Linked DNA regions of Homo sapiens. The protein of the gene in region 4 purifies or fractionates together with the protein of the main gene of each other region. This does not show direct contact. Each region holds a gene or a part of one and is shown on either strand. Other genes may lie near its edges.

Region 1 (4,066 bases), on a different chromosome or scaffold from region 4:
TAAAAACAGAAAAGTGACCAATGGAATAGAATAGAGAGCCTAGAAATAAATCCAAACATATGGTCAACTAATTTCAACAAGGGTGCCAAGAAGACCCAATGGAGTTGTGATCGTCTCCTCATTAATGGTGTTGAGAAGACTGGATTTCCACATTTGAAGAAATGAATGTTGGATGTTTGTGTTGCTTACATCATATACCGAAATCAAGCCAAGATGGATGAAAGATCTAAATGTAAGACCTGAAGCCATAAAACTCAGAGAAGTGAACATAGGGGAAAGGTTCTTGACATTGGCCTTGGTAATGATTGTTTGGATCACATCAGTAGTTCAAGCTGCAAAAAGAAATAAACGGAACTACATCAAACTAAAAAGCTTCTACACAGGAAACAAGAATATTAAAAGGCAACCTACAGTTCTGACATAGGTAGCTTGAGATAGATATTTCTAACTCAAAAACATGTAGATTGCCATTGTTTTGCTGGGAAGCAGTTTGACAAGTTTTTTGTTTTTGAGACAGGGTCTCACTCTGTCACTCAGGCTAGAGTGCAGTGATGCAGTCTTGGCTCACTGCAACCTCTGCCTCCCGGGCTCAAATGATCATCCCACCTCAGCTTCCTGAGTAGGTGGGACCGCAGGCATGTGCCACCATGTCTGGCTGTTTTTTTCTACTTGTAGAGACTGGGTTTCGCTGTGTTGCCCAAGCTGGTCTTGAACTCCTAGACTCAAATGATCGGCCCAGCTTGATTTCCCAAAGTGCTGTGATTACAGGCATGAGCCACTGCACCTGGCTGACAAAATATATTAAAAGTTTTAAGTAATTCAATTTTTAGGAATCTTTCTTGAAAAATAATTTGAACTAAGGTGTAAATACAGTGATATTCTAAGTTATTAGGACATTTCCATGTGATTAAAAGAGATATGAGAAAAATTTTCATAAGCCTAGTAAAAATGTTTTAAAAATCCAAAATTTAAATAGAAACATTGGAATTACGGGTATTTTTTAACTTTGATGTGTAAGTTATAAGAGAAAGCCAGTCATTTACACTACAGCTGATGTTAACTAAAGTGACAATTCTATGTTCGCTTTCCTGTATTGCTCTACTTGATTTTCTTACTTATTACTTCTTTATATGACAGAGCCAATTTACAAGAACAAAGGAAGAATTAGAAGCTGAGAAAAGAGACTTAATTAGAACCAATGAGAGACTATCTCAAGAACTTGAATACTTAACAGGTATGAAGAAGTGCTTGTAGCTTTTAGCTCCATTCCTTTATTTTTCTTCTGTTAGTGCTAGGAGTTAGTGCTCAGCCCATTTCTGTTGCTGATATTTTTTTGTTATGGTTGAGTATAGAGTTGTCATATCCTATTATTTCTCCTACTCATTTATCTTTAAATCATTGTCAAGTGTTTAAAGAAGTGTCTAGAAAGTGCACAAGTGAAGAACATCTCAAAGAAGTAGTAATTTGGACCAGATTTTACATGCAAAGATTTTCACTACAATGCTGTACATAATGTCAAATTGGAAGCACTTTAAATATTTGCAAAGGCTGAACTACTGTTCTTTATTTCATATGGACATCCTTGCTATATAATAAGCATTCAATATAAGAACATATACTCAGCCTATATTTATAAACAGACTGAAGGAGGCAGAGACATAAAATACATAAACATAGACTGTAGTATATAATACAGCTGATGTAGTCAGGTGAACTTGACTCTGAAGCAGTTAATGGTAAGAAGTTTCCTTTGGTGCCCAGGCACGGTGGCTGACGCCTGTAATCCCAGCACTTTGGGAGGCTGAGGTGGGTGGATCATGAGGTCAGGAGTCCAAGAGCAGCCTGGCCAAGATGGTGAAACCCCGTCTCTACTAAAAATAACAGAAATTAGCCAGTCATGGTGGCACGCACCTGTAATCCCAGCTACTTTGTAGGCTGAGGCAGAGAATTGCTTAAACCCAGGAGCCGGAGGTTGTAGTGAGCCAAGATTGCGTCACTGCACTCCAGCCTGGGCGACAGAGCTAGACTCCGTATCAAAAAAAAAAAAAAAAAAAAAAAAGGTGTTTTGGGTTCTTTTTTTTTTAATGGTTTTTGAAATTTTTTTATTTCTATAAAAGAAAGGATTTTCAGATATTTATATCATTATACAATAATATTCCATTAGTTAAGTATACTTTCCCAGTCTCACAAGAGTTCCTTCAAAATACTTGAGTGTGTTGATCAACAAGTGGTAGTTACAACTAAACGAATTCATAAAATCTAGATATTTAATAGATAGTTTTTTAAAAATGTGTATTCCATATTGAGTAGGTTTTTATATTAGTGCTTTTTAGCTTAATGATTATTTATAAAATTTTAATAGGTCTTTGGATATATATCAGGAAAATTAAGGTTAACGTTGAATATTTAGCTTAACACACTGTATTTAAAATAAATTTGGATAATTCACAAGTTTGGATACACAAATTTCAATTTTTTGTCATATATTTGTAGAAATTGAATTTGTAATTAACTATGGCAGAAACAAGTTAAAATAAGAGAGTTGAGAACTACAGTTGACCCTTAAACAACACAGTGGTTAGGGTTGCTGATTCCCCCCACAGTTGAAAATTTATGTGTAACTTTTGACTCCCCAAAAACTTAACTACTGCTGTTAACTAGAAGCCCTACCAATAACATACACAGTAGATTGTCATACGTTTTGTCTGTGATCTGTATTATATACTGTGCTCCTTCAATAAAGTAAGCTAGAGAAAAAAATGTTAAGAAAATCATAAGGAAGAGAAAATACGTTTACTGTACATTAAATGGAAGTGGATCATCACAACCATCTTCATCCTCCTTGTCTTTACATTACCTAGGCTGAAGAAAAGGGGTTGGTCTTGCTGGGTCAGGTTGCAGAGGTAGAAGGGGAGGCAGAAGAGGGAGGCACACTCAATGTAACTTTACGAAATACAGCCTAATTTCTGTCTGACTTGCTTTTTCATTTCTCTAAAAATGTTTCTATACATTACCAATCTTCCTTCCACCGTTTGCTATAGTTTCAGTGCCCATGTAAGAGAAGGATCCATGTCATAAAAGAAATCAAAAGCAGTCTTGGGTAATCAGAACCCTTCCACCAGATAGTCTGTTACCAATATGTTTTCTGACACTGCTAGTTCTACATTCTTTTTCCACATCGTCTGGCACTGGTTTGGAAGCACTCATCTCCATCCAGTCATCTTCTGTTAATTTATCTGATATGGTGGCTATTAGCTCTTGGATTTCTCCAAGGTCCGTATCTTGAAACCCTTCATCCCACTTTTTTTGCCATATCCACAATCTCTTTCATGATTTCTTTGATTGGCTCTGTTACAAATTTTGTGACATCATGCACAACATCTGGAGAGTTTCCTCCAACAGGAATTTATTATTTCAGCCTTGATGGCTTTCATAACTTTTTCTGTAATGAAAAAGAAGGGATGGCCTCTTCAGTGTGTTATCCTTTAAAACTTTCATGATATTTTCTCTGTTGGGGTTCTCTTCCACAGTGTTGACATTTTCTTTTCACAAAGTATCATCTCTATTGAGCCGTAAAGGTCCTTATGACTCCTGATCTAAAGGCTGAATTAGAAACATGTTTGGGAGCAAGTAGACTGCTTTGACACCTTCCATGTTGAACTCCTGGGTTCTGGGTGGCCAGGGACAGTGTCTAAAGTCAAAAGAACTTTAAAGGCAGCCCCTTGGCCAGGTACGGTGGCTCATGCCTATAATCCCAGCACTTTGGGAGGCCGAGGCAGGTAGATCACCTGAGGTCAGGAGTTCGAGACTAGCCTGGTCAACATGGCAGAACCCCATCTCTACTAAAAATACAAAAATTAGCTGGGCGTGGTGGTAGGCGCCTGTAATCCCAGCTACTCAGGAGGCTGAGTCATGAGAATCACATGAACCAGGGAGGCAGAGGTTGCAGTGAGCCAAGATAATGCCACTACACTCCAGCTAGGGGGATAGAGCGAGACTGTCTCCAAAAAAAAAAAAGGGCAGCCCCTTTACTAGCAAGGTACTTTCTGACTTTAGGGACAAAGCA
Region 2 (4,066 bases), on a different chromosome or scaffold from region 4:
GGTTAGATAATACAGGGCTTATTTTCTGGCAGAGTGGTGTTGAGTCTCCTTTGATGTTAGCCAGAACTGGGTGGAGTTTCTTAAGCTCCAGTCAGATTGGCTCAAGCAGGGCACCATGCAGTGGTGAATTTGTTTTCAGTCCCTCCCTTTGCCAAAAAGCTTTTTTTTTTTTTTTTAATAAACCTCAACCCAATTATAAATGAGAATACTTGATATATGAAATAATATGAAATGATAGTTGTTCATATTCACACTGAGGGTCTTAGGGGGTTTATTTATAGCTAACTGAAATGATGCAGCTGAATTACAAGTAGCTGATAGAATAATCAACCTCAGTAAACATTTAACATAACACTCTCATTTTACAGATTAGAGAACTCAGCCCTGAAAGGTGACTCATTCAAGGCCACAGTGAGTGTCAGATTAAACTGGTGCTTCAGTAAAGCATACAGACTTCTGTACCCAGCTTTCAAATTCTCTTGACTCTTACTCACAAATCTATTTAAAGTTAACTTTATTATCTGTATGGATAGAAGAGGAATAGTATAAATGGTCAATTGGTCAGTGAGAGGTTTTTTTTTTAGAGTAAATGCTTCTCATTCACAAGGGTTCATTTTTTGATCCTCCTGAACATCCAGATTTGAAAATAATAGTGTCATATCCTTTTATCCATAAAATATGTAACTAAGCATTTAAGGCATAACCGAATAGTAAGTAACTTCAAGTGATTCTGTGTGAGATGAAATTCATACATGAATTTATTAAAATTAATTTTGGAATACTTGAACCAGTTTAACATCTATAGAGCATTTAAAGAGTGTATTGTACTTATACATGTTTCAGAATAAAATAACTATAAAATTGGATAATCGCTTTAATTTATTGAAAACTGGGGATTTCTGGGAAAAAAAAAACAACAGTACTTTAACTTGAAAGATGACACTAGCATTACCTTTCTAGGATCATTTTCCATAAGGGGGTGTGTGTGTGTATTTTAAAATCATATTCTATTTATGTGGTGACAAGTAAAGAATAGCTTAACTGTTGATGAAATACAGATGCTAAGTGGCTAGCTAGATGTGCTCATAGCTTCATGACCTTCCCACTTTCCAATTGTATAATTTTCTATCAGTTTTACCCTCTTAGGCTGAATTTCAGCTACTGTTCATATTCCATGAACCACATGCAGCCCAGGAAGTCATCTGAGAGTGTGTGGCTGGGGGCGGGGTGGGGGTGCTGAGGGTTGGATAGGGGAAAGATTACAATGGATAAAAGCTGCCCTTTGATAATCTGCATTCTGATAAATGATATTTAAAATGTATTGGTGTTTTTGACTGTATTTTTACCCTGTGCCTTAAATGAGGAAAAGATTTGAGTAGATTGCATCTTATGTCATTATGTATTTCTGGGGAAAATTAAATTTTGGATTTTTATGGTATGTTGTTAAGGATGGCACAGATGTCCTTTTAAGTTCTCTTTGACCATGAAACTGATGCAGGATTTTTGCTCCTTAGCTCAACTAGGTCCAGGTTCTTATCTCAGGAGCGGAAGAATTAGGCACGTGGACATCAAAGAGTGAGTGGAGTAGAATCTATTAATCGAAAGGAAAGCTCTTAGCAAAAAGAGAGAACATGGTAGGTGGTTCTACTACCTGAAGACAGGAAAGTTCCGTAATATGGCTGAGCCTGGGGCTCTTTATTGGTTCAGAATGGGAGTGTGTGGTCATTGGTTTGTGAGTATGCAAAAAAGGTCAAAGCGAAGACACCACTCCAAGGTGGGCAGGACAGTGTAGAAAACCAATTAGGAAAGGGTAGGTACAGGTTAAATAGGTGAAGGATGGGGATCAATCATGCCAAACGGGAAGGCAGGTTCTTAATCCGATCTCAGGATTTACCCAGGACAGTTTCCGGATTAAAGTTCGGGTTTCACTGAGGACCCGCCCCTGTCTGCCTAGACATTTGTTTGCCTCTTGCCTCTATCAAAACTAGTTACAGACGTCCTTTTTAGTTTTTGGTTCATAACAGCTCCCAAAGGATAACTACTAATAATAGTTGTCAGAGATAGAATAGGGAAATGGCATAACCGAATAGTAAAAGCAACTGAATAGTTGCTTTTCATGGAACCCTTTGACATTATAATCTGTTAGGCTTTTAAAAGCTCTTTAATGAACTCATTTCTCAGCATTTTCCCTGTCATGATCTGGAGTTACAATAATACTTTATATGTAAAGTAGGCTGGACGAGCATAGAATAGGGCTTCCCACCCACATTCGTCTGTTGTAAATGGGTCACAGGTGTGCCACTACTACTATAGGAACTTTTTTTTTTTTTTTTGAGACGGAGTCTTGCTCTGTTACGTAGGCTGGAGTGCAGTGGCGTGATCTTGGCTCACTGCAGCCTCCACCTCCTGGGTTCAAGCAATTTTCCTGCCTCAGCCTCCTGAGTAGCTGGGATTACAGGTGCATACCATCTAAATAATAAAAATCAGTGCCCAGCTAGTTATTCTGTTTTTGTATTTTTAGTAGAGATAGGGTTTTACTGTGTTGGCCAGGCTGGTCTCAATCTCCTGGCTTCAAGTGATCCACCCGCCTTGGCCTCCCAAAGTGCTGGGAGATTACAGGCTGGGATTACCAAGTCCAGTTCCTACTATAGGAACCATTGAATTCCTATTTATGGTTCCTTCAGAAAAGCTGCTAAATCCTGAATTCGGCAGTGGTTATTCAAATAGTGGAATTTATAATTCCAGTAGTGTGAGATGGCATTTGCTGTGGACAACAGCTCTGTCATGCCACAGGAGCCCCTTTGGCAGCAAAGCTATCAGTTTTTGTCACGAGCCCCACACTACTTGTTTTAGTCAGGATTCTCTTAGAGGGACAGAACTAATAGGATATATCTCCAAAGGAGAGTTTATTAAGTATTGATTTACGTGATCACAAGGTCCCACAGTAGGCTGTCTGCAAGCTGAGAAGCAAGGAGAGCCAATCCGAGTCCCCAAAATGAAGAACTTGGAGTCCGATGTTCGAGGGCAGGAAGCATCCAGCACGGGAGAAAGATATAGGCTGGGAGGCTAGGCCCATCTCTTCATGTTTTTCTTCCTGCTCTATATTCGCTGGTGGCTGATTAGATGGTGCCCACCCAGTTAAGGGTGGGTCTGCCTTCCCCAGCCCACTGACTCAAATGTTAATCTCCTTTGGCAACACCCTCACAGATACACCCAGGATCAATATTGCATCCTTCAGTCCAATCAAGTTGACAGTATTAACATTACAAGTCCACTCCTTGTCAACTTGAACCCATATACATCTGAGATCGTATGTAATCTTAAAATAAAGACAATAATAAGGTCATAATTACACCTAATGTAATAAAACTATCCTTCATACAACCAGAAACACACCAATCCCCAACCCAAATACTATTACATAAAGTTAATAATACTTAAATGCTGTTATGAAATCAATAAATCTTATGTCACATGATAAAGGAAAAGGAAATATAAAGTGAAGATATTAGTACATGTGTATACATACACAAACATGTTTTTAACAAATGAAGGAGGAAATACTCATGGCAGTTACAGTCCTCATTTCTGCAGCTGGTCACGTGGTCATAGCTGGTATTGATGACTACCTTCTTCTACCCATTCTGTATTAACTTTGCCTTCCCCAAATACCTCAGCAGGTCATGGGTTTTTTTCCTGGTGGAGTGATCCAAACCTTCATTCCTGAATGGTCCGGATCATTTGTAGTCCTGCCTGGATTTGGCTGTTGTGGTTTTGCATTGACAGTAATCACAGGGCATGGTAATACGAAGAGATGCCCTAATGGGTCTCATGTATTCCATGCATACTCTTCCTTACTTCCGTTGTGAAGTTGTAGACTGATTTCATCTTGATAGTCTGGGTCAGTCACCTTAGCCAACACTGTAACTCCCCCTCTGAGCCTGTTGACTTAAAGGGAGGAGGAGCCCAAAGTGTCCAGGTGACAATCTTAACTTCCAGTTTAATGGAATCATTGTTGTGTCTCCTGGTGGCAGCATTCTTCCCTCTGGAATTAAGACCTCTAGGC
Region 3 (4,066 bases), on a different chromosome or scaffold from region 4:
ATATGAAAGAGCCATAAGCACTTTATTGAAGAAGAATATGCTTCTTTATTTTGCATATGCAGATTATGAAGAGGTAAGTAAAAATGTTTAGAGCCTTCTTATAATTCAATTTTTTAGTGCAGGACTGAACTTTTTTTCTGGCTGCTTGTTTGCCAGGCATATTGCTTTTGGTAGACAGAGATGATGCCAAATGAACAGTTATTAGTTGTCAGCTTATACTATATTTATGCTCAATGGAGATGCCATTGGGGGTGGGAGGTTATAGCCTTTGGATTCCTTGGAGCTCAAATCCTGCTTATTTATGACCATATGTTGATACTCACTTCTTCTGTACCACCTTAGAGTCGCATGAAGTATGAAAAGGTTCACAGTATATATAACAGACTTCTGGCAATTGAGGATATTGACCCTACCTTGGTGAGTAACTTTACAAATCTTTTTTTCCACCTTTACAGTCTTATCTAACAAAAAATAATTTAAATTTATATACAATAAAATTCACTGTTTTTGTTGTATAGTTCTATTAATCTTGACAAATAACATTGAGTATGGGATCCCCACCACAATTAAGATAGAAAACACCTCCACCATCCTCCAAAAATTCCCCCATGTGACCCCTTTGTAGATATAACCCTTCCCTCTGCCCTTACCTCTGACAATTACTGATCTGTTTTCTGCTAGAATTTTTTCTTTTTAATGCAGCAGTATAAAATAGATACAGAGGCACTTTCTCTAACACTTTCTTTGTGATCATGGTTTGAAGTCACTTTATGCCACAGAATTGTTGCTTAATAGATATTTCTTTTTAAATGAGGCGGGAGAAACCGACATCCTGGGAAGAAATTAGACTGAAACTCACTTTATGCTAAATCCTGCTCTATCATAGTGGTTTTCAAAGCCCCAAGTGCAAAAGTGCAGTGATGCTCTCCCATTGGGAGAGGAAGGGGACAGGCTTGTGGGTGTGTCTCTAGAACCTCTGCCTCAAGTCAATTATAGCTACACTACTTTTTCTTGTTAATGATTTATATTGGGATTCCACTGCTATAATTCCTACATTTATTCATCATCTTATAATTCATTCCACAAACATATCTGGCAAATATATTGCTAGAGTCTATGCATTGTGCTAGACTCCAGCAACATTAATGACAAACTAGATGAAATTCCTTTTCTTGAGGAACTCATAGTCCATCCATCCATCCATCAAAACTGGGTAATATAGCTAGACATTATCAATACTGGGCAAACCAGGACCCTACTAATTAGTCATTTGTTCACTAAACAAAACTGCATACTCATGATGTACTGGACACTCTGTAGGTGCTAGGTATAAAATGGCTCATAGTTTATCCATGAAGTTCTATTATATGTTGTTCGGAAAATAGAGTAGTGGGCTTTTAAAAAGAAACCAAGAAAATGTGAAGTTAAACATGTATTGCAGGCTGGGCGCGGTAGCTCACACCTGTAATCCCAGCACTTTGGGAGGTCGAGGCAGGCAGATCACGAGGTCAGGAGATTGAGACCAGCCTGGCTAAAATGGTGAAACCCCATCTCTACTAAAAAACAAAAATTAGCCGGGTGTGGTGGCGTGTGCCTGTAGTCCCAGCTACTTGGGAGCCTGAGGCAGGAGAATGGCTTGACCCCAGGAGACAGAGGTTGCAGTGAGCCAAGATCGCACCACTGCACTCCAGCCTGGGCAACAGAGCGAGACTCCGTCTCAAAAAAAAAAACATGTATTGTAAGACGTGCTTGTATTAAACCAACCCTTGAGTTTTTTAGATATTGACATTCATTAATGGAGTATGTTCTAGTAGTGTCACACTTTTCACTCTTAAACTTTAATTTACATATTCTAGAATTAGATAATGGTGATGATTGCACAACCTTGTGAATATATTTAAAACCACTGAATTGTAAAGGGTGAATTTTGTGCTATGTGAATTATGTCTCAATAAAAAAATAAATTAATTTGCATGCATCTCTAATACCAGAAAAAAATTAGTTTGTGGATTTAAATAGAATATTATCTAAATTCCTACTTTCTAATTTATTGGGTATTGAGGATTGCTTTCTTATGCAGGAAACATACTGTCTAATTTATAGAACACAAATACTTTCTTTTGCATAGGTATATATCCAATATATGAAATTTGCACGGAGAGCAGAAGGCATCAAATCTGGAAGAATGATATTTAAAAAAGCAAGAGAAGATACCAGAACCCGCCACCATGTCTATGTTACTGCAGCACTCATGGAATATTACTGTAGTAAGGTAAATACTGAAATACAAGTGTAAAGATAAAACAACTTCCTTCATCTGAGGTTCGTAAAAGAAAGGTGATTTTAGCTTCTGTCATTAAGCTTTTATTGCTCCATTTTGTAAAGGCAGTCTAAGTGTATCTGTGTAAAATTTTATGGAGCATCATCCAAATCCCCAACTACTTGCTAATTTATGCTTCATTAATCACTATATTTCTAATTTGTGCTTTATTAATCACTATATTAATCACTATTTCGTGATTTCTAATCACTAAACTCCTTTGAATAGTTTCTAGCTCAGCAATTTTTACTTAACATGATTTTAATTTGTTTTAATTCTTACATATTTTGTCATATGTAGGTATAATTTTAATATTCTTTCAAGTGTTTTTTATCTGACATTTCATGGAAATCTGTACTTTACTTTCTTTACTTGTAGGACAAATCTGTTGCCTTTAAGATTTTTGAGCTGGGGCTAAAAAAATATGGAGACATTCCAGAGTATGTCCTGGCCTATATTGACTATCTTTCTCACCTCAATGGTAGGTTGATTCTAGAATCTATAATGATTACTTAATATTAAACCATGTGGAATTATGTTGCTAGATTTCTTCCTTCTTGAATGTATTATAATTTTGACATAGCAGACAGGCACTTGTTAGGCACTCAAGAAATACTTGTGGTATATCAACCATGAATATATTTACTGAGCAATGGTAGATGTTTTTTGACTCTGCAGAACTGTCTTTATTCAGTAAAGTACCATCAGTAGTGGGATAAAGCTTCAGAGTCAGAGTCAGGAGACACAGAGTTGTTTATATTCATCTCTGATGACTCTGGGCAGATCATCTCCTGTTTCCTGGAAGGAAAACAAACAAACAAAAAACCCTCTAGCCACCAAAACTCAAACTCAAAAGATGCCCAAATAGTAAAGTAAAACACTTTGAGGATACTGGGGAAAAGATTCAAAAAGAAACATTTTGGTTTTTAGTATTTATTTATTTATTTATTTATTTATTTATTTATTTGAGACAGAGTCTCGCTGTCGCCCAGGCTGGAGTGCAGTGGCGCAATCTCGGCTCACTGCAGGCTCCGCCCCCTGGGGTTCACGCCATTCTCCTGCCTCAGCCTCCGGAGTAGCTGGGACTACAGGCGCCCGCCACCTCGCCCGGCTAATTTTTTGTATTTTTAGTAGAGACAGGGTTTCACCGTGTTAGCCAGGATGGTCTCGATCTCCTGACCTCGTGATCCGCCCGCCTCGGCCTCCCAAAGTGCTGGGATTACAGGCGTGAGCCACCGCGCCCGGCCGGTTTTTAGTATTTATTTCCCTATTCTGTTGTACGAATAACACTGGCCATCCTTTATTGAGTTCCTACCAGGCACTGTGCTAGATAATTCATATATGTATATCATTTAGTCTAGTTAACAACAGTGCACAATATGTAATTTCTTAACAAAAAAAGATGTAGTATAAAAGTTGGTTTTTTAGCTAGGTGTGGTGGCGTATGCCTGTAGTCTCAGATACTTGGATCACTTGAGCCCAGGAATTGGAGGTCACAGTGAGCTGTGATCACGCCACTGTACTCCATCTAGCCTGGATGACAGAGCAAGACCCTGTCTCTAAAAAACATTTAAAAATAAATGAATAGGCCGGGCGTGGTGGCTTATGCCTGTAATCCCAGCACTTTGGGAAGCCGAGGCAGGCAGATCACCCAAGGCCAGGAGTTTGAGACTAGCCTGGCCAACACGGCGAAACCCTGTCTCTACTAAAAATATAAAAAATTAGCTGGGCGTGGTGGCAGGCGCC
Region 4 (4,066 bases):
CTCCTGAGTTCAAGTGATTCTCCTGCCTTAGCCTCCTGAGTAGCTGGGACTACAGGTGTGTGCCACCACCCCCGGCTAATTTTTATATTTTTAGTAGAGACGGGGTTTCGCCCCTTGGCCAGGTTTGTCCCGAACTCCAGACCTCAGGTGATCCACCCGCCTCAGCTTCCCCAAGTGCTGGGATTACAGGTGTGAGCCACCGTGCCCGGCCTAATTTTTGTATTTTTTGTAGAGATGGGGTTGCACCATGTTGCCCAGGCTGGTTTCGAACTCCTGGGCTCAAGCGATCTGCACGCTGTGGCCTCCCAAAGTGCCGGCATTATAGGCATGAGTCACCACACCCGGCCTCCTCACATAATTCTTAAGCCCCCTGTCATTTGGGAGCCATGAGCTAGACTAAAAAAAGAACAAAAGAAGGGTCTTGATGCAGGTATATGAACATTTGAACTATTCATCGTCTTTAAGACCAGTACCAACTCCTAGTGGTGAAAAGGGTGATGTGTGGAGAATTCTAGAGTGTTCTCACCTTAGGGTGTCTCCCTTTGGTGTTTAATATGAAGCCTCTGGAACCTTCATATTTGTTAATGGAGAGTGGACTTATTTGGGTACCTCTCAGTGAAGAGGCTGGGTTTGACTGTCAGGTTCATCTCATGGAGCGATGCCATCTACTGGTAATGCCTGGCTGGAGGGAGCTGCCTGGAAATGCAGTTGGATGGAAGTATTGTGCTTGATTAGTGATGTCTGCCATGAAGGTGGAAGAGGGTGGTGGTGTTAGTGGTTATAGCCATTCCTATCCTAGTTCCACAGCAACAGGCTGGAGAGAGTCTTTTTTGTGTGTCTCTCTTTTTCTTTCAAATGTGACTAACTTGAGGGCAGGGGCTGCATTTTAAATTTTTCTGCCCCCATGAAGTGTCTAGGACAGGGCTGGGCAGATAGGAAGTGTCTACCTGACATCCAAATAGTCCATTGTAAGTGGGTGTTGAGGTGCTGGGAAGGTATCAGCTCCCTTTCTCTCCCTTTGCAGATGGTGTCTATGAGATAGGCGGCCTCGTTCCCGTCTGGGTCGTGGTGGTGATCGCAGGCACAGCCTTGGCTTCAGTGACCTTTTTTGCCACATCTGACAGCCAGCCCCCCAGGCTTCACTGGGTAAGAAGCCCGGGTTCTCCGAGATGGGGGGGGAGGGATGCTGATGTCTCCCACACAGATGTCCTGTCTGCATCTCTGAGGCACTTTGACCAGTTTGATCAGGAGTCACACAAAGACAGGTAACCGAACTTTAAAGCTGCTTTTGAGAGTGTTTGTATCTATACAGGGTTTTTTTCTTTTTTTTTTTGGTAATAGCTTAATTTTGTTGAGATGTAATTCACATACCATACAATTTACCCATTTAAAGTATACAATTTAATGTTTTTTATTATAGTTACAGAGTTGTGGAATCATCACAATCAATTTTAGAGAATTTCATCACCCCAAAAAGAGACCTCATGCCCATAAGTCACTCCCCATTTCCCCACCCCCCACATAGCCCCTGGCAACCACGACTCTACTCCGCGTCTCTATGGGTTTGCCTATCATGGACATTTTATATAAATAGAATCCTACAATATGTGATTTCCTTTTTTTTGAGACAGGGTCTCCCTCTGCTGTCCAGGCTAGAGTGCAGTGGTACAGTCATAGCTCACTGCAGCCTCGACCTCCTGGGCTGAAGCCATCCTCCCACCTCAGCCCCCCAAGTAGATGGGACTACAGGCGCAAGCCACCACGCCCAGCTAATTTTTGTATGTTTTTTGTAAAGATGAGGTCTCACTATGTTGCCCAGACTACTCTCAAACTCCTGGCCTCAAGCAATCCTCCTGCCTCGGCTTCCCAAAGTGCCAGGATTCCAGGCATGAGGCACTGTGCCCAGCCTTGGGTTTCTAAAGACACTCCAGGGATAGAATGGGATGGCCTTTGTGGGTGTCTTTTTCCATTTTCCCTAGTCTAGGCACTCTAAAGAATATTTAGGGGTTTGTCCAGAGACTTTTTCCTTAAAAGTTTACTTAAATTAGCTGGGCGTGGTGGCGGGCACCTGTAATCTCAGCTACTCGGGAGGCTGAGGCTGGAGAATTGCTTGAACCCAGGAGGCAGAGGTTGCAGTGAGATGAGATCGCATCATGGCACTTCAGCCTGGGTGACAGAGACTCCGTTTCAAAAAAAAAAAAAAGTTTACTTAATATTTTCATTTTGGCTGGGCGTGGTGGCTCACGCCTGTAATCCCAACACTTTGAGAGGCCGAGACGGGTGGATCACCTGAGGTCAGGAGTTTGAGACCAGTCTGGCCAACATGTCGAAACCCTGTCTCTACTAAAAAATACAAAAATTAGCCAGGCATGGTGGCGGGCACCTGTAATCCCAGCTCCTTGGGTGGCTGAGGCAGGAGAATCGCTTGAACCCAGGAGGCAGAGGTTGCAGTGTGCTGAGATCGCGCCACTGCATTCCAGCCTGGGCAACAGAGTGAGACATCGTCCTAAAAAAAAAGTTTACTTAAAATTTTCATTGTTTAGTGCTTAATGATTTTTTAAAATTTTAGTTTTTACTTTTGGAAACTCAATGAATGTACCAACCGAAGGGTGTTGAATTTTCAGCAAATGGATCATTTAGGGAAGTTGCCTTTTACTACTTAGGGAAAATTGTCTTTCACTGTTTTTTCAAGTACCGACGTGTGCCACAACATGGATCACCCTTGAAAACATGATGCTGAGTGAGAGAAGACTGTAGCAGAGGATCACACACTGTGGCATTCCATTGATGTGAAATGTCCACGAGGCACATTCAGAGAGACAGAGAGCAGAGTAGTGGTCGAGTTGGGCTGGTGGGGTGGGGCTAGGGAGTGACCGCTAATGAGTACAGGGATACTTATTGGGATGATGGGTGGTATTTGGTTCATAGACTGGAAATCTGATGAAAGTGATAAGGAACCCTTTCCAGACAAAATAATATTTTTTTTTAGTATATGAAAGGGAGGTTTTTTTGTTTTTATTTTTTTTCTTTTTTCGAGACAGAGTCTCACTCAGTCGCCCAGGCTAGAGTACACTGGCATGATCTAGGCTCACTGCAACTTCTGCCTCCCGGGTTCAAGCGATTCTCCCACCTCAGCCTCTCGAGTAGCTGGGATTACAGGTGTGTGACACCAGCCTGACTAATTTTTGTATTTTTAGTAGAGACAAGGTTTCACCATGTTGGCCAAGTTGGTCTCGAACTCCTGACCTCAGGTGATCTGCCCGCCTCGGCCTCCCAAAGTGCTGCGATTACAGGCGGTGAGCCACCGTGCCCGGCCTGAAAGGGAGTTTATTAAGGAAAAAAGAAAATAATATTGAACTCACGTTTTATTGAGCACTAACTTTGCACAGGCACCAATGCATATAGTAACGTGTTTTATACTCATAATAAGCTCATGAGGTAGATACTGTTATCATCCCGTTTCACAGGTGAGGAACTGAGGCTGTGTTCCTGTTGGGGCTGGCCTTGGTCCCACAGCAAACCATTCCCTCCGCAGCTCTTTGCTTTCCTGGGCTTTCTGACCAGCGCCCTGTGGATCAACGCGGCCGCCACAGAGGTGGTGAACATCTTGCGGTCCCTGGGTGTGGTCTTCCGGCTGAGCAACACTGTGCTGGGGCTCACGCTGCTGGCCTGGGGGAACAGCATTGGAGGTGACTCAGGGCTGGGTGGGGTTGAGTGGGGGTGAGTGCGGCCACATCTTAGCTCTTTCCTCCCCCAGCCAGAGTCGCATCTGGGCAGGAGTGTCCAGGGTGTCTGCCCTCTGCACCTGTGCAGTGTCCCCTGTCACTGTGGAGTGGCCAGCATTGGGGTGAGATGGCCCTGACTGCAGTTGGACCAAGAAACTCTATAGAGGCCCCTGCCTCTTCCCCACCCTCTGATGCGGGGATGGTCGGTGGCTCCCAGAGTTCAGGCAGGACATGGAGCCCATTGCAGCCGGCCGTGCTTGATGTGTACACGGGTGTGTGACATGCAGGCATTCACACTTACATACATACACCCTTCCCTAGCTGTAGCAGCCAGGTGTGGT
Region 5 (4,066 bases), on a different chromosome or scaffold from region 4:
GTAATGGGTTAAAAATTACCTGAGAAGCTACCTTAAAAAAATCTTTCTTGATACAAAGACCTATGCAACCTATTGACGCAACTTGGTGAAGAATTTATGCACAGAAAAAGTCAGCTTTCTCTGTGACATCCAAGAAAGTCAGATGAAATTCACTTCCCTAATAGTTAATCCTTGCATATTTCTTTAGAAGTCCTTCCTCCCACTCAAATCCAGTAATATCTCTGGGCAGTCTAGAATTACGTTGTATAAGGTTTCATTAACAAGAAAAATTAAATATAGAGCAGAAAAGTATAAACTTACCCTCTTTGGAAGGGAATAAATGCAGAGTAACCTATTATTTTGAACACTCTATCATATGATTAATGTTTTCTTTTTTACTAAATGCAGCAGCTGAGATTGTATTATAAAACAAAGTATGAACTAAAGGAACTTGAATTCAGTAGAATCCTTCCTTGTTAGAAGTCTTGTAACAAAAACTATATTCTGGTTTGGGGAAGGCCCTGTGTGTTCTGTGTCTCTTTAAAGACTCAACTAAGTCATCTTGCCAGCATTAAGGTCTCAAGTTTAAAATGATTTCTTAGAAGCACTTTCTTCCAAATAAAACTTTGTGCTAGATGCTTTTGGTTTGAGACAAATTTGAGATTCCCTGTATATTAAGGTGAGTGGTGGAGGGTAATTGCCATTTTGGTTTCTTGAAAATGTGGACTAGGAGACCAAGAGAAGCACCTGTAAAAGCAGTGTGTTGGAATTATTTTCCAGAGAACAGAGATTCTGGACAAAGTCATTGGGGCTAATACGTACCCTGTTGAAGGCTGTGGTTTAAAAAAACAAAAAACCCCCACAAACACAAAACAAACCCATAGCATACTGAGAGAGATGAAACTTGAGGGACAAAGAAGAGTCTAGACTTGAACTTGTCCTTTCCCAAGCAATGGAGGTCACATGCAGCTTACATAAAAAAGGTTGTAAGGCAGGTAAGGCTGTTTTCTTAGGTGATTGAATACAGTATTTAAAATTATTTCTCTGGAGTGTAGACTAATCTCCTTCCTGGAAGGTTTTTGTTTCCAGACTTTACTGATTATCTTTCCTTCTGTCAAAGGTACTTCAGATACTTGCATCTATGTAAAAGGCTTTTGATTATTAGTTAAATGTAAAGTCTGCTTATGGGGGACTAGTAACCAAACTGCTGTAACTTCTTAAAAAAATCCATCACTTACACATGCTTTATACATTTCTTGTTACATAAAAATGGATTAACAGCCATAGCTCCTTAAGGAATTTATCAAGCTAATTATGTTGTAAGAATAAATGAATCTTATTGATTTGTTCCTTTGAAGAAGTGAAAGTGTTTGGTGGTGAAGGTGCTGATGAGAGAGTTAAAAACATATTTTGCCCACATTTAATACCTAATTTTCTTTTAAATCTTTCAGTATTCTACCTTGTAAATACTGTTATTTGTATATACTGTAAATGATGACATCGGTGGGCACTAACCGAGCCCGGGGAAACTGGGAACAACCTCAAAACCAAAACCAGACACAGCACAAGCAGCGGCCACAGGTAAATAATCCAAGGCATACGGATTCATGGATAGCGTTGCCTGCTGATACTGGTTTCCATGCAGTACAGCATCATTCTGTGCTTTGAACTGTTGGTTTAGGTTCCTTATTTTTGTTTTCTAGTCCTTGGCTCTTTTTTTACTTAGGTCCTGATAACTGTTCATGACATGCTGTAAGGCAAGATGCTTACTTTTTTGTTGTTTAATACTGTATTATGAGGCTTAGCACTTTATTATGGGTCCTGTGCTTTTTATCTTTTTTTTTTTTGTTTTGTTTTAAGATAGGAGCTCCCTTTGCCTAGGTCAAAGTGCAGTGGCACAGTCACCATTCATTTGTAGCCTCAACCTCTGGGGCTTAAGTGATCCTCCCGCCTCAGCCTCCTGAGTAGCTGGGACTACCAGTGCACACTACCATGCCAGGCTAATTTTAAAATTCTTGTAGAGATGGTAGTCTTGCTGCATTGCCCAGGCTGGTCTTGAACTCATGGGATTATAGGTGTGAGTCACTGCCCGGCTCTATAACTCTTAAGATAGCATTTCCCTTCTCTTACCTGGGCCATTTTAGCAATACCTTTCTATTTCTTAGACCTTCCACCTTGATATCTCTCTCTTTTGTTTTTGAGACGGAGTCTCGCTCTGTTGCCCAGGCTTGAGTGCAATGGCGCCACTTCGGCTCACTGCAACCTCTGCCTTCCAGGTTCAAGCAATTCTCCTGCCTCAGCTTTCTGAGTAGCTGGGATTACAGGAGTGTGCTACCATGCCCAGCTAATTTTTGTATTTTTAGTAGAGACAGGGTTTCACCGTGTTGGTCAGGCTGGTCTCGAACTCCTGCCCTCAGGTGATCCACCTGCCTCGGCCTCCCAGAGTACTGGGATTATAGGCATGAGCCGCTGTGCCCTGCCCCACCTTGATACCTCTCTAGCAAGCCTTTTCCATTCCAGATTTTATCCTTTGCTCCTCTTTTCCCCAACTTGTCTTTTATTTTCCTCTCTGGTTCCATTGAGACCTTACCTGATTATTCCTTTCCCATGAGGAGCTGGCAACTTCACTATGTTTCTTCAAAATTAAATGAAACACCTTAGAGCATTGCTCAATTTTAAGTTTTAAAGAGTAAATTAACCTCTTGGATATTAACTTTGATGTAGATATATTCTGTTTCTCATACCAGGTTGATGTTAGTTGGTATGTAATGTGAATGAATTACTTATATTTGATTATGGTCAGATAAATCGAATATGTAAGATTAGGACATCCCCCTTACGCATTTTTCTTTCATCTGTGTTTTCAAGTGGATTTCTAGTAGAATTATAATACTTAGTTGGGGCAGTAAAATTCCTAGTATCTGAACATACACTGGATATATAGAAGATGTGTTGAGTCTATTGTCAGACTTGTATTCTAAGCTCTAGGAATAAGAGGATGGCGTTGGTTATTACAGAAATAAGAATAGAGTTTACACATGGCTTTGTGACTTAATATGAATTAAGGGGCAGATGTTTCAGAGCGGTTCTGTGATTCTAAGACGGAAGTCCCTTTAACTGTGAAGATTGGTGAATGAGTTCCTTACTCTTTCTGTAACAGTTTCACTCAATTTTTTGTCATTTTACTGATTTAAGCATCTTTTTTTTTGAGGTGGAGTCTTGCTCTATCACTTAGGCTGGAGTGCAGTGCCACTATCTCAGTTCACTGCAACCTCCTCCTCCCAGATTCAAGCAATTCTCCTGCCTCAGCCTCCCGAGTAGCTGGACCTACAGGTGTGCACCACCACACCCGGCTAATTTTTGTATTTTTAGTAGAGACGGGGTTTTGCCATGTTGGCCAGGCTGGTCTCAAACTACTCACATCAGGTGATCTGTCTGCCTTGGGCTCCCAAAGTGTGGAATTACAGGCGTGAGCCACCACCCGCACCTATCCCTGATCCCCCATTAAGCGTCCTAAATGGTGCTTTATTACTTGCTCATTTGTTACAAGGAAAAGAAAATTGGGGCAGTGGAGGCTGACGAAATAGGTTCCTGTTCTCTAAACTGTTGCCTCATGATTATGCTTTCTTGATCTCATCTCAATTCCTAGGCCACTGCAGAACAAATTAGACTTGCACAGATGATTTCGGACCATAATGATGCTGACTTTGAGGAGAAGGTGAAACAAGTGAGTGTATCACTAATTTACTGTACACTATGAGAAAAGATACCAGTATTAAGGCATAATCAAATACTGTAGATGGATGCCAGGATACTTTCTACTATAGGTATTGAAAGAATTTTGACCTGAAATATAATAGGTCAGGCCAATAAATAAGTGCTTTCATTCTCTAATTTTTTGTAGCCCTTTGTTTTGTTTTTTGTTTTTTTTTCAGATGAAGTCTCACTCTGTCACCCAGGCTGGAGTGCAGTGGCATGATCTTGGCTCATTGCAGCTTCTGCCTCCCGAGTTCAAGCGATTCTCGTGCTTCAGCCTCCCGAGTAGTTGGGATTACAGGCGCTCACCACCATGCCTGGCTAATTTTTT
Region 6 (4,066 bases), on a different chromosome or scaffold from region 4:
CAGAGAGAAAATCCTGCTTCTGGAAGCTCATCCGACACTTAGACCGAGTGGACTCCATCCTGCTCACCCACATTGGGGATGACAATTTGCCTGGAATAAACAGCATGTTACAGCGGAAAATTGCAGAGCTCGAGGAAGAACAGTCCCAGGGCTCCACCACAAATAGTGACTGGATGAAAAACCTCATCTCCCCTGACTTAGGAGTTGTATTTCTCAATGTACCTGAAAATCTCAAAAATCCAGAGCCAAACATCAAGATGAAGAGAAGCATAGAAGAAGCCTGCTTCACTCTCCAGTACCTAAACAAATTGTCCATGAAACCAGAACCTCTGTTTAGAAGTGTAGGCAATACTATTGATCCTGTCATTCTTTTCCAAAAAATGGGAGTAGGTAAACTTGAGATGTATGTGCTTAATCCAGTCAAGAGCAGCAAGGAAATGCAGTATTTTATGCAGCAGTGGACTGGTACCAACAAAGACAAGGCTGAATTCATTCTGCCTAATGGTCAAGAAGTAGATCTCCCGATTTCCTACTTAACTTCAGTCTCATCTTTGATTGTGTGGCATCCAGCAAACCCTGCGGAGAAAATCATCCGAGTCCTGTTTCCTGGGAACAGCACCCAGTACAACATCCTGGAAGGGTTGGAAAAGCTCAAACATCTAGACTTTCTGAAGCAGCCACTGGCCACCCAAAAGGATCTCACTGGCCAGGTGCCCACTCCTGTGGTGAAACAAACAAAACTGAAACAGAGGGCTGATAGCCGAGAAAGTCTGAAGCCAGCCGCAAAACCACTTCCTAGCAAATCCGTGCGCAAGGAGTCAAAAGAAGAAACCCCTGAGGTCACAAAAGTGAATCACGTGGAAAAGCCACCCAAAGTTGAAAGCAAAGAAAAGGTAATGGTGAAAAAAGACAAGCCAATAAAAACAGAGACCAAACCTTCAGTGACTGAAAAGGAGGTTCCCAGCAAAGAAGAGCCATCTCCAGTGAAAGCCGAGGTGGCTGAGAAGCAAGCCACAGATGTCAAACCCAAAGCTGCCAAGGAGAAGACGGTGAAAAAGGAAACAAAGGTAAAGCCTGAAGACAAGAAAGAGGAGAAAGAAAAGCCAAAGAAAGAAGTGGCTAAAAAGGAGGACAAAACACCTATCAAGAAGGAGGAAAAACCAAAAAAGGAAGAGGTGAAAAAAGAAGTCAAAAAAGAGATCAAGAAAGAAGAGAAAAAAGAACCCAAGAAAGAGGTTAAGAAAGAAACACCGCCAAAGGAAGTCAAGAAGGAAGTTAAGAAGGAAGAGAAGAAGGAAGTGAAAAAGGAAGAAAAGGAACCCAAAAAAGAAATTAAGAAGCTCCCTAAAGACGCAAAGAAATCATCTACTCCTCTGTCTGAAGCAAAAAAACCAGCTGCTTTAAAACCAAAAGTACCCAAGAAGGAAGAGTCTGTCAAGAAAGATTCTGTTGCTGCCGGAAAGCCAAAGGAGAAGGGGAAAATAAAAGTCATTAAGAAGGAAGGCAAGGCCGCAGAGGCTGTCGCTGCAGCTGTCGGCACTGGAGCCACCACAGCAGCTGTCATGGCGGCAGCTGGAATAGCAGCCATTGGCCCTGCCAAAGAACTCGAAGCTGAGAGGTCCCTTATGTCATCTCCTGAGGATCTAACCAAGGACTTTGAAGAGTTAAAGGCTGAAGAGGTCGATGTAACAAAGGACATCAAGCCTCAGCTGGAGCTAATCGAAGACGAAGAGAAACTGAAGGAAACTGAGCCAGTCGAAGCCTACGTCATCCAGAAGGAGAGAGAAGTCACCAAAGGTCCTGCCGAGTCCCCTGATGAGGGAATCACTACCACTGAAGGGGAGGGCGAATGTGAACAGACACCTGAGGAGCTGGAGCCCGTCGAGAAGCAGGGAGTAGACGACATTGAAAAATTTGAAGATGAAGGAGCCGGTTTTGAAGAATCTTCAGAGACTGGAGACTATGAAGAGAAGGCAGAAACTGAGGAGGCTGAGGAGCCAGAAGAGGATGGGGAGGAACACGTATGTGTGAGCGCCTCCAAGCACAGCCCCACTGAGGATGAGGAAAGTGCCAAGGCGGAGGCTGATGCATACATCAGGGAGAAGAGGGAGTCTGTGGCCAGTGGGGATGACCGAGCCGAAGAAGACATGGATGAGGCCATTGAGAAAGGAGAGGCTGAACAATCTGAAGAGGAGGCTGATGAGGAGGACAAAGCTGAAGATGCCAGAGAGGAGGAATATGAGCCGGAAAAAATGGAAGCTGAAGACTATGTGATGGCTGTGGTCGACAAGGCTGCAGAGGCTGGTGGTGCCGAGGAGCAGTATGGATTCCTCACCACACCAACCAAGCAACTAGGAGCCCAGTCTCCTGGCCGAGAACCTGCATCTTCAATTCATGATGAGACTTTACCTGGAGGCTCAGAGAGCGAGGCCACCGCTTCTGATGAGGAGAATCGAGAAGACCAGCCTGAGGAATTCACTGCCACCTCTGGCTACACTCAGTCTACTATTGAGATATCCAGTGAGCCCACCCCCATGGATGAGATGTCTACCCCTCGAGACGTGATGAGTGATGAGACCAACAATGAAGAGACGGAGTCCCCTTCTCAGGAATTCGTAAATATCACCAAATATGAATCTTCATTGTATTCTCAGGAATACTCTAAACCTGCTGATGTTACACCGCTCAACGGATTTTCTGAAGGATCAAAAACAGATGCCACTGATGGCAAGGATTACAATGCTTCAGCCTCTACCATATCACCACCCTCTTCCATGGAGGAAGACAAATTCAGCAGATCTGCTTTACGTGATGCTTACTGCTCTGAAGTGAAAGCCAGCACCACTTTGGACATCAAAGATAGCATCTCAGCTGTTTCAAGTGAAAAGGTCAGCCCATCGAAGAGCCCGTCCCTGAGTCCATCTCCACCATCACCCTTAGAAAAGACCCCCCTGGGTGAACGTAGTGTGAACTTCTCTCTGACGCCCAATGAGATTAAAGTCTCTGCAGAGGCAGAAGTAGCCCCGGTGTCTCCTGAGGTGACCCAAGAAGTAGTTGAAGAACATTGTGCTAGTCCTGAGGACAAGACTCTGGAAGTGGTGTCACCATCTCAGTCCGTGACTGGCAGTGCTGGTCACACACCTTACTATCAATCTCCTACTGACGAGAAATCCAGTCATCTCCCTACAGAAGTCATTGAAAAACCACCAGCAGTTCCAGTGAGTTTTGAATTCAGTGATGCCAAAGATGAGAATGAAAGGGCTTCAGTAAGCCCCATGGATGAGCCCGTGCCTGACTCAGAGTCTCCTATTGAAAAAGTTTTGTCTCCTTTACGCAGCCCGCCCCTCATTGGATCCGAGTCTGCTTATGAAAGTTTTCTAAGTGCTGATGACAAGGCTTCTGGCAGAGGTGCCGAAAGTCCTTTTGAAGAAAAGAGTGGAAAACAAGGCTCTCCAGACCAAGTAAGTCCAGTTTCTGAAATGACTTCTACTAGTCTTTACCAAGACAAACAGGAAGGGAAAAGCACAGACTTTGCACCAATAAAAGAAGACTTTGGCCAAGAAAAGAAAACTGATGATGTTGAAGCCATGAGTTCTCAACCAGCACTGGCTCTGGATGAAAGGAAATTAGGAGATGTTTCTCCCACACAAATAGATGTCAGTCAGTTTGGATCTTTTAAAGAAGACACTAAGATGTCCATTTCTGAAGGTACTGTCTCAGACAAGTCAGCTACTCCTGTTGATGAGGGCGTAGCAGAAGACACGTACTCTCATATGGAGGGTGTGGCCTCAGTGTCCACAGCCTCAGTGGCTACGAGCTCATTTCCAGAGCCAACAACAGATGATGTGTCTCCATCTCTGCATGCTGAGGTTGGCTCCCCACATTCCACAGAAGTAGATGACTCCCTTTCAGTGTCTGTTGTGCAAACACCTACCACATTCCAGGAAACAGAAATGTCTCCATCTAAAGAAGAATGCCCAAGACCGATGTCAATTTCTCCACCAGATTTCTCCCCTAAAACTGCAAAGTCCAGGACACCCGTTCAAGATCACAGATCTGAACAGTC
Region 7 (4,066 bases), on a different chromosome or scaffold from region 4:
GTTTATGAGGTTAAAACTGGGAAAGGAATGGAGTTGTTTAGTGGGTATAGAGTTTCTGTTTGGATTATGAAAAGGTTCTGGAACTAGATAGTGGCAATGGTTACACAACACTATGAAGGTACTCCATGCCACTAAATTGTACACTTAAAAATGGTTGAGGCTGGGCGTGGTGGCTCATGCTTGCAATCCCAGCACTTTAGGAGGTCAAGGCAGGAGTATCCCTTGAGGCTAGTTCAAGACCAGCTTAGGCAACAAAGGGAGACCCTGTCTCTATTAAAAAAACAATTATTTAGCTCAAGCAGCAGTTCTTTACATTTGTGCAGTCTCTGAAGAAGGCCAAGATGTAATCCTTTGGTCCTATTCTGGCCTGGAGGGCCACACCTTTCTTCCACTCAGCAGTCCCAGAGACTTAAGAGCTGCTGTATCACTGCTGCTGAGGCTTCTTTCGAAGGTCCTCACTGAAGCTGCTCAGCCCTTCCTCCTAAGATGAAGTTTCAGAGCCTGGCCATCCCCACTATCACCTTCTTCTTCATAGGCTCCAGTGTGCTGATGCCTTAAAATATGGTTCCCAGAATGGTTCACAATATTCCACATTTATAAAGCAAAGACCTATACTGATCTCACAACAGGTCTTTGTGTTAATACAAACGAAGGCAGGGGCATCAAACTACATTACTCATGCTTTCCCACCATGCACTTGAAGTATTTAAAATAGGAAGAAAAATCACAGCTTCAATTAGGAATATCCTTGGTAAAGCAGTAAAAATGAATCGTGACCCACTTTTTAGTACCCTATGTTATGAAACACGCAAAGCACTTCTGCTGCATACACAAGCATGATGGCTGCTGCAGGAAAAGCACTTGAGCTACAAGCTGAACTAGCTGTTCTTTCTATAGAACAAACTATGGTTAATTCAGACATGGGTACTAAGTTTTTTAAAAATGAAGTTAAGTCTGTTCCTTGAAGTAAAAGAACAGTATTTGGGTTTTTTGTTTTGAGACAGGGTCTTGCTCTGTTGCCCAGATTTGAGTGCTGTGGTGCAATCACTGCTCACTGCAGCCTCAATCTCCAGGACTCAAGTGATCCTCTAGCCTCAGCCTCCCAAGTAGGTGGGACTATAGGCATATACCACCACACCAGCTAATTTTATTTTTGAAAAGACCAGGTCTGGACATATTGTCCAGACTGGGCTAGAGTGATCCTCCTGCCATGGCCTCCCAAAGTGTTGGGATTACAGACATGAGCCACAGCACCTGGCCAAAATAACAGTATTTGTTGCCAATGGTAAAATTTAAGCTTTCAAGCAAAAAAGAGTTTCGGAAAACCTGTATCCATCAACATAAGCCTGACAGTCTTTCAATACTCAGAGACTTTTCTAACAGCTATGGTGAATGTGACTTTGATACTGTATAACAAAATGTACCAACATCTGGAACATCTGCATGGCTCTGCCTGGCTCAGTGAACAGGTCCTTTCCAAATCACCAACACCTTACAAATGTATGCACTGGTAAAGGATCCAGTCGGAGTACAAGATAAAGTGACTTTTTTTTTTTTTTTTTGATACAGAGTCTCACCCTGTCGCCCAGGCGGGAGTGCAGTGGCGCAATCTGGGCTCACTGCAAACTCCACCTCCCAGGTTCAAGTGATTCTATGGCTTCAGCCTCCCAAGTAGCTGGGACTACAGGGGCCCACCACCATGCCCAGCTAGTTTTTGTGTTTTTAGTAGAGATGGGGCTTTGCCATGTTAGCCAGGCTGGTCTCAGACTACTGACCTCAGGTAATCCGCCCGCCTTGGCCTCCCAAAGTCCTGGGGTTACAGGAGTGAGCCACCGCGCCCAGCCAAATGATGAACTCTAATGTAAAAGTATGAAGAGTTTATTGATAAGGTTTTAGGTTTCACATTGCAACTAACCTTCATAGAAACTACTGCTTATTGAGTTTTGGTATAGAATCAAATATGAATATCCAGAATTATTTGATTACTCCTCCCATTTCCAACTATTTATCTGTGCAAGGATTGAGCTGCTCCATAAAAGTCAACCAAAGCAACACATTCCAAGAGTGGAGACAGATGCAGGTATGAGAATCCAGCTGTGTTCTATTAAGCCAGACATTTAGAAGGCTCCAAAAATGTGAGTACACAGAAGGCTCCAAAAATGTGAGTATACATGAAAGACAGGAGAAGAATGTGCAGAACAAAGGGAGGTGACGGCCCCCCTAGCCCTGAACTGGAAGGCCATGCTTAACCAGAGACTCATCAACCGTGGAGCAGCCACATACTTGAGCTCCTTCAGAAGGTCCTGATCAAGACGGAAAATCACATAAATCATGACGTGGGGAAACTTCGAAGAACATTCGACTTACACAAAAGAAGTCTTAGACGTACATACAGCTGCCATTAGGTTCTATGAAAATGATGCAATCACACTCATTTCATGCCCGGGTGTGCAGGTCTAATCAGCATGATGTAAAAGCAACCAGGCGACAAATACTCTCCTGAACCTTCCAGGGGAAGCTGGAAGCCAGAGTGTGATCCTGGAAAGACATTCAGAGTCTGCTTTGTACGTTCTAAGCTTCCAGGGAGACTCCTTAAAATTGTGAAGTCTTTCCAGAACACTAAGCTTAATTTTTCTTTTTTTTTTTTTGGAGACAGTCTCTCTCTGTCGCCCAGGCTGGAGGAGTGCAGTGGCATGATCTCAGCTCAATGCAACCTCCGCCTCCCTGGTTCAAGCAATTCTCCTGCCTCAGCCTCCCAAGTAGCTAGGATTACAGGTATGTGCCGCCACACCCGTTTTGTATTTTTAGTAGACATGGGGTTTTGCCACGTTGGTCAGGGTGGTCTCAAACTTCTGGCCACAAGTGATCCGCCTGCTTCGGCCTTCCAAAGTGCTGGGATAACAGGCATGAACCACTGCACCCAGCCACAAAGCTTAATTTCTAATAGAAACATAAATTGAAGGCTGGGTACTGTGGCTCACACAATGAGCCTTGGGAGGCTGAGGCAGGAAGATCCCTTGAGCCCAGGGGTTTGAGACTAGCCTGGGCAACATAGAGACACTCTGTCTCTACAAAAAAATACAAAAATTAGCTGGGCATGGTGGCGCACCCTGTAATCCCAGCTACTTGGGAGGCTGAGGTGGGAGGATGGCTTGAGCCTGGGAAGTCGAGGCTGCACTGAGCTATGATCCTGCCACTGCACTCCAGCCTGGGTGACAGAAGGAGAGCCTATTTCATAAATAAATACATGTTTCTAACTCATATGTGGGGAAAACGAGGCTCAGAGAGGTGAAGAAACTTACTTCAGATCACACAACTAACACATGGCTGAACTGATGAAACTCTGGTCTGCCTTATTCCAAAGCCAGGGCTTTTACATGAACCGTCATGCAGAGACCTCTTAGCAAATCCAAATATTTCTGGTAACACTTTTCATAGAGGATAATGGTTTGGAACTAAGCAATGGAACACTTGGAGTGAAGAAGGATAACAAACCTAAACGACTTGACATTTGACATGTAAACAGCATTTTAAAATAAGCTTTTCAATAGCTTTACAGGCCCTAGCATCAGTGAAAACTAGCTGTAGTTTTTATACACTGCTTTCCTTCCTATTACATACAAATCTTAAAATATGCTCAGAGACAGGAAGTAGAATGGTGGTTGCCAGGGACCTGGGGGAAGGAGGGCAATAGGGAATTACTATTCAAAGGGGACAGGGTTTTAGTTTTACAAGCTGTAAGAGTTAAGGAGCTGGATAGTGGTGATGGTTATACATTACGAATACACTCAATATCCCTGAAATGTATACTGAAAAATGGGTAAAGTGGCACATTTTATGTTATGTATATTTTACCACCATAAAAATTTTGGATAAAAATATGCTCAGAAATTTAGACAGACATGCTAAGTTTAAAGATTCAAAGGTTAGAATTCTAAACTCCTAGGCTGGGCGTGGTAGCTCATGCCTGTAATCCCAACACTTTGGGAGGCTGAGGCGGGAGGATCACTTGAGTCCAAGAGTTCAAGACCAGCCTGGGCAACATAGTGAAACCCATCTCTATTTA

The links.
Region 1: the proteins of SLC8B1 (region 4) and TPR purify together in Homo sapiens (affinity purification with mass spectrometry; one large-scale study listed by BioGRID and IntAct). This does not show direct contact.
Region 2: the proteins of SLC8B1 (region 4) and MAP4 purify together in Homo sapiens (affinity purification with mass spectrometry; one large-scale study listed by BioGRID and IntAct). This does not show direct contact.
Region 3: the proteins of SLC8B1 (region 4) and CSTF3 purify together in Homo sapiens (affinity purification with mass spectrometry; one large-scale study listed by BioGRID and IntAct). This does not show direct contact.
Region 5: the proteins of SLC8B1 (region 4) and UBAP2L purify together in Homo sapiens (affinity purification with mass spectrometry; one large-scale study listed by BioGRID and IntAct). This does not show direct contact.
Region 6: the proteins of SLC8B1 (region 4) and MAP1B purify together in Homo sapiens (affinity purification with mass spectrometry; one large-scale study listed by BioGRID and IntAct). This does not show direct contact.
Region 7: the proteins of SLC8B1 (region 4) and EIF4H purify together in Homo sapiens (affinity purification with mass spectrometry; one large-scale study listed by BioGRID and IntAct). This does not show direct contact.

What each region holds. Positions count from the first base shown.
Region 1 is NC_000001.11:186,365,054-186,369,119, reverse strand, and holds part of TPR (nucleoprotein TPR), read left to right. Parts: intron 1-1,137; coding exon 1,138-1,234; intron 1,235-4,066.
Region 2 is NC_000003.12:48,009,820-48,013,885, reverse strand, and holds part of MAP4 (microtubule-associated protein 4), read left to right. Parts: intron 1-368; exon of another isoform or gene 369-411; intron 412-4,066. UniProt on the Homo sapiens protein: Non-neuronal microtubule-associated protein. Promotes microtubule assembly.
Region 3 is NC_000011.10:33,095,041-33,099,106, reverse strand, and holds part of CSTF3 (cleavage stimulation factor subunit 3), read left to right. Parts: coding exon 1-73; intron 74-342; coding exon 343-417; intron 418-2,128; coding exon 2,129-2,272; intron 2,273-2,698; coding exon 2,699-2,801; intron 2,802-4,066. UniProt on the Homo sapiens protein: One of the multiple factors required for polyadenylation and 3'-end cleavage of mammalian pre-mRNAs.
Region 4 is NC_000012.12:113,307,314-113,311,379, reverse strand, and holds part of SLC8B1 (mitochondrial sodium/calcium exchanger protein isoform 1 precursor), read left to right. Parts: intron 1-1,024; coding exon 1,025-1,146; intron 1,147-3,535; coding exon 3,536-3,689; intron 3,690-4,066. UniProt on the Homo sapiens protein: Mitochondrial sodium/calcium antiporter that mediates sodium-dependent calcium efflux from mitochondrion, by mediating the exchange of 3 sodium ions per 1 calcium ion.
Region 5 is NC_000001.11:154,223,654-154,227,719, forward strand, and holds part of UBAP2L (ubiquitin-associated protein 2-like), read left to right. Parts: intron 1-1,430; 5' UTR 1,431-1,470; coding exon 1,471-1,560; intron 1,561-3,628; coding exon 3,629-3,706; intron 3,707-4,066. UniProt on the Homo sapiens protein: Recruits the ubiquitination machinery to RNA polymerase II for polyubiquitination, removal and degradation, when the transcription-coupled nucleotide excision repair (TC-NER) machinery fails to resolve DNA damage.
Region 6 is NC_000005.10:72,194,218-72,198,283, forward strand, and holds part of MAP1B (microtubule-associated protein 1B), read left to right. Parts: coding exon 1-4,066. UniProt on the Homo sapiens protein: Facilitates tyrosination of alpha-tubulin in neuronal microtubules. Phosphorylated MAP1B is required for proper microtubule dynamics and plays a role in the cytoskeletal changes that accompany neuronal differentiation and neurite extension.
Region 7 is NC_000007.14:74,177,128-74,181,193, reverse strand, and holds part of EIF4H (eukaryotic translation initiation factor 4H), read right to left. Parts: intron 1-4,066. UniProt on the Homo sapiens protein: Stimulates the RNA helicase activity of EIF4A in the translation initiation complex. Binds weakly mRNA.